2 separate regions of the Homo sapiens genome follow, and region 1 is linked to region 2. The links come from fine-mapping of genetic effects on gene expression. A gene starts in region 2. The other region holds a variant in brackets. All regions are shown on one strand. Distances are between the middles of the regions.

The links. PIP is the estimated chance that this variant, and not a neighbour inherited with it, causes the effect.
Region 1: its variant is the best candidate, but not a certain one, in a credible set for the expression of TMEM266 in fibroblasts (GTEx, PIP 0.53).

Annotation. Positions count from the first base shown.
Region 1 is chr15:76,273,534-76,277,931 of GRCh38, forward strand. It overlaps ETFA (electron transfer flavoprotein subunit alpha), which reads right to left. Exons shown (of 12, transcript NM_000126.4): 9 at 879-961. Among named protein-coding and RNA genes, the nearest start is that of ETFA, 36 kb to the right of the region's middle. The variant G/A (reference allele first, on the strand shown) is at 2,335.
Region 2 is chr15:76,057,891-76,062,288 of GRCh38, forward strand. It overlaps TMEM266 (transmembrane protein 266), which reads left to right and starts at 2,095. Exons shown (of 11, transcript NM_152335.5): 1 at 2,095-2,126. It also overlaps a transcript of NRG4 not described here. RefSeq lists a silencer at 1,088-1,137.

The sequences.
Region 1 (4,398 bases), 220 kb after region 2:
GACAGAGCAAGACTCATCTCAAACAAAACAAAACAAAACAAAACAAAACAAAAAAAACTTCAAAAATAAAAAATAAGCCTTGAAAATGTTGACTACAGCATCTTAAAACTGTGAATGAATATCTCATAGAATAGAGCACTGGGATGTAAGATTTTTTTTTAATGGACAAGACTGCATATTGTTTTGAAATATATAAAAAACATGTTTTCCTGCATACTATACAAGTTTAAACTGGCTGAGACTCCTATTCACTGAAAATCTGTATCACCTAAGAAATATAAACAGTCATTATCAACTGTGATTCAACTTTGAGACCAAAATTTCCTGCTCTTCCAAGTTTTAGACAGGCTTAACTGAAGAATATTCTAGTATCACTTATCTATGTAGAACAGAATTTTCTGAAATTGATACTATAAGACAAAATACAGAAACTAGGTGTTCAGGAAGATATAAGACTAAAACTGTCATTCACAGCTCCCAATTTCAAAATTCTGTTCATTAAAATAGGTTCATTGTTCTCATTGATTTTATACTCTCTAAAGGCTTTATGGAAATAAATCTTATCAATGTGAACTTATAAATCTGAGTTGATAAAATGCTGCTTTTATCAATGTTTTATTTGATGTAATATGACTTAATTTGATAAAATGTTCCACTGCTTTAAAATACTTGAATAATAAGCTGGATTTAAGAACTGCTGGGCATTTTACTAGGATCAAGAACTACACAGACCTTGTGAAAATGACATATTCACCATGGTACTGGCTAACTGCTCAGGAACACTGAGTAAGGTAAATCACTGAGATCACTGTTCAACAAATACATACAGTACTTATCCCCATAACATTTTACACAGCATATTTTATTGCAATACTTACTGGTGCTACTATTTTTCCCGTCTGTCCAACTTGCATGTCATTGGGAACAAAGCCAGCATCAACAGCAGCACGGGAAGCACCAACTAAGGGGAAAAAATATTTGTCATTTTTTTCAAGCTCTATTATTCAGCTAGTTAGGATATTCACTGATAACTGTAAACAAAGACATTGATTTAGAATTCTAAGTACTAGTATATTTTATACAGAAAGCTTCAAGGAATAACTTCTTTTTATACCCAAGTATTTCAGATTTTAATTTGGGCTTAACTCTTCTGCATGCTTTATCAAAATGGCAGTCATAAAATTTACACTATAATGTTTAGAATGTCATTATATAATGCTCCTTTAAGTAATAACTTCACAAGTTTTGAAGAAAGGTTTTACAATATTACCTCTTGTAATACTATAAAGAGAAGATACTGGACAAAGAGTTTCATATAACAAGATGAAGGTTTAACCAGTATTTGCTATCAAATTCACAAATAAAATTTAACAGACTTTCTATTCTCATTCAACAGGAGTCAACAATGAGCCCTATACTTGGAGTAAAACAACCCCTTCCCCAGCAGGAGTCAAGAATGAGCCTCAGGCCTCTTCATCTCAAGCTGAAAAGGACAGAGGGAGCCATAGACAATACAACTAACAACCTCCAAAAACGCACAGCCTCACCACCACTATCTTGAGTCAGCCAGGACTAATCACACCCTGCCCTTCATTATGTCTGTCCCCATAAGCCCCAAACTCAAAGGTTATCCTTCATAACCCATACACTGATCCCCATAATGCTCTGCATGCTCCCTAACCTGCACCAATCTCCCATATTCCTAACCCTTACACTGTGATTTCTGGAATATGGAGCCCAATATCAGCGAAACTTAAGTTATATTAAGTTTTATTAAAATGTAAGTTTTAGAACTTAAAACTTTAAGTGTATTAAAACTCAGGTTTTATTTACCTAATAAAACTTAACTTTAAATTGGCTCCATCTGAAATTAATATAGCTACTCCTGCTTTCTTTCAATTAGCATCACCATGGTATATCTTTCTCCACTCATTTACTTTATATGTATATGTATTTTTATATTTAAAGTGGGTTTCTTGTAGACACCATATAGTTGGGTCTTACTTTTTCATCCACTATGACAATCTTTATCTTTAATTGGTGCATTTACACTACTGATGTTGAAAGTAATAACTGACACAGTTGGATTAATATCTACCATATTTGTAACGGTTTTCTATTTGTTGCCCTTGTTCTTTTTTCCTATTTTTGTCTTCCACCAACTGAGCATTTTAAATAATTTCATTTTGTCTCTTTTCTTAGCTATTAGTTGTATTTTTGTTTTACTTTAGTGCTGGTCCTAGAGTTTGCAATATTCATTTACAGCTAATCCAAGTCCACTTTCAAATAACACTTTACTACTTCACAGGTGGTGCAAGTACCACTTAATAGCAA[G/A]ATAATCCTAATTCCTATCTCCTGTTTCTTACATTGTGATTCATTTCACTTATACATGAGCACATAAGTAATTGTAATACATGAGCATATGTAATTGAATACAATGTTATTATTTTAAACTGTTACCTATTAGATCAATTAAGAAAAATAAAACTTATTTTACCTTCACTCATTCCCTCTTCAATGCTCTCACTTGCTTTATATACACCAGAGTTTTTGACCTCTATCATTTCCTTCTCTCTAAAAGAACTTTTAACATTTCTTGCAAGGTAAGTCTATGACATATTCTGCCAATTTTTGTCTGAGAAAGTCTTTATTTCTCTTCCATTTTTAAAGGATAATTTCACAGGGTATAAAATCCTACATTGGTGAGTGTTTTCTCTCAGCACTTTAAACATTTTACTACACTCTCTTCTGCTTGCATGGTTTCTGAAAAGAGATCAGATCTAATTATTATCTTTGCTCTTGTACAGGTATGGTGGATTTTTTCCTCTGGCTTCAGTATTTGTTATTTTTTATTTCCTGTAGTTTGCAAATGATAGGCCTAGTTGAAGTTCTTCTGGCATTTCTCATATTTGGTGTTCTCTCAGCTTCCTAGATCTGTGGATTGGTATCTGACATTAATGAGGGGAAATCCTCAGTCAGATATTGCTTCTGTTCCTTTCTCTCTTCTCCTTCTAGTATTCCCATTACATGTTATACTCTTAGAAGCTGTTCCACAATTCTTAGATATTATATTACAGTTCAGGTTTTTTTGTTGTTGTTGTTTTTTTCTTTTTCTGGTTATTTTTCTCTTCGCTTTTCAGTTTTGGAGGTTTCTACTGAGATATCCTAAAGCTCAGAGATTCTTTCCTCGGCCATATCCAGTCTACTAAGAAGTCCTTAAAAGGTATACTTCATTTCTGCTACAATGTTTTTTATCTCTAGCATTTCTGTTTCTTTCGTGGATTTCTAGCCCTCTGCTTATATTGCACATCTTGCTTGCTTTTTATTCATTAGAGACCTTAGTATACTAATCACAGTTGTTTTAAATTTCCAGTCTGATTATTCCAGCTCAGTCTGGTTCTGATGCTTTCTCTGTCTCTTCAAACTGTCTTTTACCTTTTAGTATATCTTGCAATATTTTCTTGATAGCCCAACATGATGTACACGGGTAAAAGGAAGTGCTGTCAATAAGCCTTTATTACATGGTGGTAAGGTGTTGGGGGAAAGGAAGCATTCTACAGTCCTATGGTGACGTCTTGGTCTTTTACTAAGACCGTACCTCAATAAGACCATATTGAGACTGTGAACTTTACACATGCTTCTCAGTTCCTCTCTCTCCCTTAGGTGGGACAGGATGGCTAGAATGGCTGAAGTTGAGTATTTACCTTTCCTCAGGTCAGTTAGGCTCTGATAAAGCCCCACAAGTTAATCTCTGGTTAAACAGTTCCTCCTGAAGGAGATCAGACCTTGTTAAGAAGAACAGAATGCTCTGGCATATTTTAAAATGGTTCCCTTTCCCGTCCCCTTGTCGGAAGCATGAGGTGATTTTTCTCTAATTTTCACCATGTGGAAGAGCTCCTGAAGGTAAAATTCACAAAAATGTTGGGACCTCACACTGGATACCCCTGGAGTTTTTTGTCAAAAACAAAAACAAAAAAAAAAAACAAAAAACCAGAGTCTCACTCTGTCGCCCAGGCTGGAGTACAGTGGTACGATCTTGGCTCACTGCAACCTCCATCTCCAGGATTCAAGCGATTCTTCTGCCTCAGCCTCCCAAGTAGCTGAGACTACAGGTGCGTGCTGCCACGCCCAACTAATTTTTGTATTTTTAGTACAGATGGGGTTTCGCCAAGTTGGCCAGGCTGGTCTCAAACTCCTGGCCTCAAATGATCTGCCCACCTCGGCCTCCCAAAGTGCTGGGATTACAGGCATGAGCCACCGTGCCCTGCCCACCTGGAGTTTTTAACACGGAACCTCCAACAATTCATCAACAAGACTTCAAGTCCCCCTACCCCACCACCAGCTCCTGTGGAGGTTGCTACTTTTGGGTTTCTGCTCTGGGAAGTTGTGATTATCTGT
Region 2 (4,398 bases):
AAATGTTCCCTTGAAGTCGCATGAACCCGAATTCAAAAAAATTTTATTAGGATACAAAGATTCCTGGTAGAAATTTGAAGTGGTCTTCAAATTTCTCTCAGCAAGTTTCAAAATACTTGTCGTACTCTGAGAGTTAATTAGCGTTATAACTGGATGCTTCTCAATAGTTTCAATCAAATCTTAAGTAGAGTTCTACTAAGGTGGAAAATGGAGTGGATAACAATCTGGGCAAGCTATGCCAAAGCTTTTTCTAAAGAAAGTGTACCTAGTTAAAATGCTGTCACTGACTGTCAGAAAACTATAGCTCCCCTCCCGTGCATCCTCCATTAATTTTTCTTAACCCATCTCCACTTTCTCTATTCTAGTCCACATTTCTTCCGTCTAGAAATGTAGAAAAATCCTTTGGCAACCCAGGTAGCTTCCACAAGTATCATCTCCAAGTGTTTCTTCCTCTGAAATTCCACCATTAGAGATTAGAGATGAGTAGGAAATGCTGAAAGGCGAAGGAGGATCTGAAGAAATTTTACATTTTTTTCTCAGTTTGCCAAAAGTAGATACTCCCTGTATAGATATTCCCGTATAATCCAGGGAAGGTAGTCCAAGACCGTGGGGCAATTCCAAGAGGTGGTTTTGAAGTCCTTCAACTCTACCATTTTCATTTTATCCATACTAAAAAAGCTACGGCAGGAAGAAAAGACAAAGGACATTCCTGGGAGGCCAACTGGACCTAATCAAATAAAAACACTTTAGAAGAGGTACAAGAATCAGAAATCAAACCTATCTGCAGAGCCAAAAGCCATTCTGAAACTCCGTGTCCTAGAAACAAGGGTTTCCCATCTTTTCAAATATTTTAAGATAAAAATCGCAACACCCTATAGGAAAATGGCTATATTTTTAGCAAGAATTGGTGGAGAAGACAAACGATAATAAGCTACTATGAATCCAGAAGCTGCTTAAATGGCCGTATTCACAGCAGCCCTTGCAAACATTAATTAGAGTAGTACCCATTATGGGTGAGGACTTTTTTTTTAACCACAGAGAATATCTGTGGGTGCATCCAGATTGCTCAGTGGTTCCGTTTAACCCACCCGGTAACTGGCAATCATGGCCCTAGGACAGGCTTCTCCACCGGGGCGATGCTGCCTCCAAGGGGCGCAATGTTACTTTTTATGCATCAAGCACGGATAACACATACAGCACATAAGCAGGTCGACAGTGTATCTGCGGTACTGGGATTTCACGGGGAAAGGAGATGGGGACGTGTAAAAAGCCTTTTTAAGAGTCAGATAACGAAAAACGGAAAAAGAGGAGAAACACGGTCCTACAAGGGTCCTGAGCTGAGGCCATCAAATGAATGTACTGACAGGTATTTTTCTCCCAGGCAGCCAACTGAGAGTCAAGGCACTCTGACCGTGCTATGACTCCGGCCACACAGAAAGAGGTGTTTTCCCCTCGGTGGCCTCCAAGCGCAGCGGGCACTGCGTGCCATCCGCTCCCTCACCGGGCGCCCCGCGCGGATGAAACGGAGCAACTGGGAAAGAGCTCTGGAAACTGCAAAGCGCTGCGCCAAAGCGACGGGAGGTTCCCATTCTCAGCTGTACGAAATCCCGCGGGGGTCCTCCGCTTCCCCGAGCGACGCCCTCGGCCTCCGCACTTGTTGCTTCTGCGCCCCGCCTGCGTCCCCGTCAAACCCACCCTTCGCGGCCCCCTCGCCTCTCCACACGCTCGCACTCAGGCCCCGACCCTGCCCCGCGACCCCCTCACCCACGCCACGAAGCCCGCTCTGCGTGGCAGCCCCGGAGACAGCCGAGCCCCCGCCTCCGCCCCCTGCCCAGCTCAGGCCGCCAGCCCCTGCCAGCCGACGCCGCGGTTTCCTAGACAGCCGCGCCGCCGTTCCGCAGCCTCGGGGGCGCGCGCGCGCGGCCGGCGGGAGGCGAGGGCGCAGGCGCGGGCTCGGCCAAGCCGCCGGCGCGAGGCCTCGCGCGCGCCCCCGAGCGCGGTGGGCGGAGGGGCGGAGGGAGCGGCGGGGCCGCGAGGGGGCGGGGGGGCGGAGAGGGGAGCCCCGGGAGCGCGAGCCGCGGCCGGCGCCGCTGCAGAGCCGAGCGAATCCCGAGCCCGGGCAGCAGGTATGTGTCCTCGCAGCCGGCCGCGGCCAGAGCTTCCCCTGCCTCACTGCCCGAGTCTTGTGGTCGGGGCGGGGGGTGGGGGGACCGGTCAAGGTTTGCAGGATGCGTGCTCGGAAGGGCTGGGATCTTGCCGCTGACCTTCATCCCCCTGGCCGGGGGAGCCAGGCGAGGGTGCGTGGGGCAGCCCAGGGCTTCAGCTCCAGCCTGGAGACCTGCTTCTTGTCACATGCTTCTTATTTATTTTTGCAAACTGCCCTGGTTCGGGTCCAGCTGCAGATGCCTTACCTCCCATTCTTTGCCTCCGTGTGCCATCTTGCATTTATTAATAAAACATGCAAGCTGGAGGGGGGGGTTGCTGCTGGGGGGAATCCCATTGCAGTATGGCAAGCGGGCGCCTATTTTCGGTTTTCAGACGTGGTATAGAGGTGGAAATCCCACACCCTGAGGATTTGTGGCTTGGTTGGTCGTGACCACTTCCTAGTGGGCTTCCCCCGTTTGTCGGGAGGTGCCCCAGCGGCAGAATGGGCTGTCTGGAAGGGATGGTGGGTCTTCACCGTCAGGCCAGAATCCCCTTCAGGGGACAGGTGCAAGCTAGGGCAGGCAGTTCCCTGCTTGCTAACTTGCCAGGGAGGCTTAAACCTAGAAAATTGTCTCCCTTGATGGCCGAGAAAAGATGGCCTTCAACAGAATCCCTGGGACTTGCATACTCAAACTCATTACGGTTTTGCATCTGAACATGACTAAAGCTAGCCACCTGTTGGAAGTCAGACCCCATGAAACACCCCCGTAATCTAGCTCACCCATCCCTGTTTCACAGTCACCAATACTGAGCTAGCAATAGGCCCATATGGGTTCCCTCTATCCTCTTTAATGCTGCTTGGCTTTTCTTTTAAAATAAGACCTACCTATGATTTGATGCCCTATATGTGAGAGGTTGAAATTATATGATTTGTTTATATTCCATACACCTATCACATCATATCCTAAAGACTGAATTTCTCTTCAGTGCATGTGTTTATTTCCCTGGCTTTTCACCTTGCTTTGAACAACAGTGGGAAAATGGGATGTATATAACTGCTTACCTCCTCCCCCAAATACCTCCACCCTAAAATATTGTGATGAAAAGAATAGTAAGAGCTAGAAGCAAAAAATGAAAATGGTTATCACAAGATGTTGGGATATGATAGCTGAACCGTAATTGCTTCTAAAATGGTCAGAGTGTCACATCTAATCACGAGAAGGACATGTTTCTTAAATGTTCATATGTACCAGGTACTGAGCTAAAACTATTTGTGTATGAGCTCATTTAGTCCTCACAGCAAACCTGCTATGTCCATGTTGAAGATGAACAAGCCAGGACTTAGAAAGGTTAACTAACTTGCCCAAGGTCACACAGTCAGGGACAGGGTAAGGATGCAAACTCAAGCACATGGGGATACTGGAGGTGGGGAGCCCTGAGGGGGCTTTTCCTCCAGGTGCGGCTGCTCCGTGTACCTTTTCATTAAAATCAAGCTTATGCATGAGCATGTTGGCTTGGGTCTAATTTTCCATTTCATAGATTCTGCACCAACTTTGTGGCTTTCCAGTAAGAAAAGCAGTTGTTTCAGAATGGATCAGTATGGAATTTTTTGAGGTGGCACTAAACCTATAAAAAGTGGGGTCCAAGATGTGCTTCCATTTAATTCTCACACACAAGGAGTTGAGTTTAAAAAGTTGTTTCCCTCCAGATTTAAACCCATAAAACGTATATGCATTAAGTAGAATGAATCACTCCCATTTTCCATTATCGCATCCCACCCTACCCTCCTTGCTGCCCTTCACACTATCTTCTGGTCTCACTGCCAGTCATCAGAGCAACATTGTCTATCACACTTGCCTGTGAGTGCCTTAATGGGAGGAAGGAATCCATCCGTACCAGCCGTGGCTCGTAATCCAGTCTCTCTATGATTGTAGCAATTATGCATTCAAAGTTCTTGGAATCTCTGCATTCAGCTATGGATGTGTATTTAATCATTTTTTTAAAGTGCATTATTATAATGCAGGTATTGGATTTTGTTAAACATTCCTAGCAGTTCTCATGGACTTAGAAATTGCTGTAGTTGCATCAGTGAAAATTCACCCAGTGGGGCTAATAGCTTTTCTACTCAGGTCACATAGTTGAGATAGTGGTGAGAAAGGTATAGGTGAATAGAAGGAATTATTTGGAAAGTATATCCCATGCAAATAACAGCTTTTAATTATAAATTGATGAATAATATTAAGTAGGAAATAT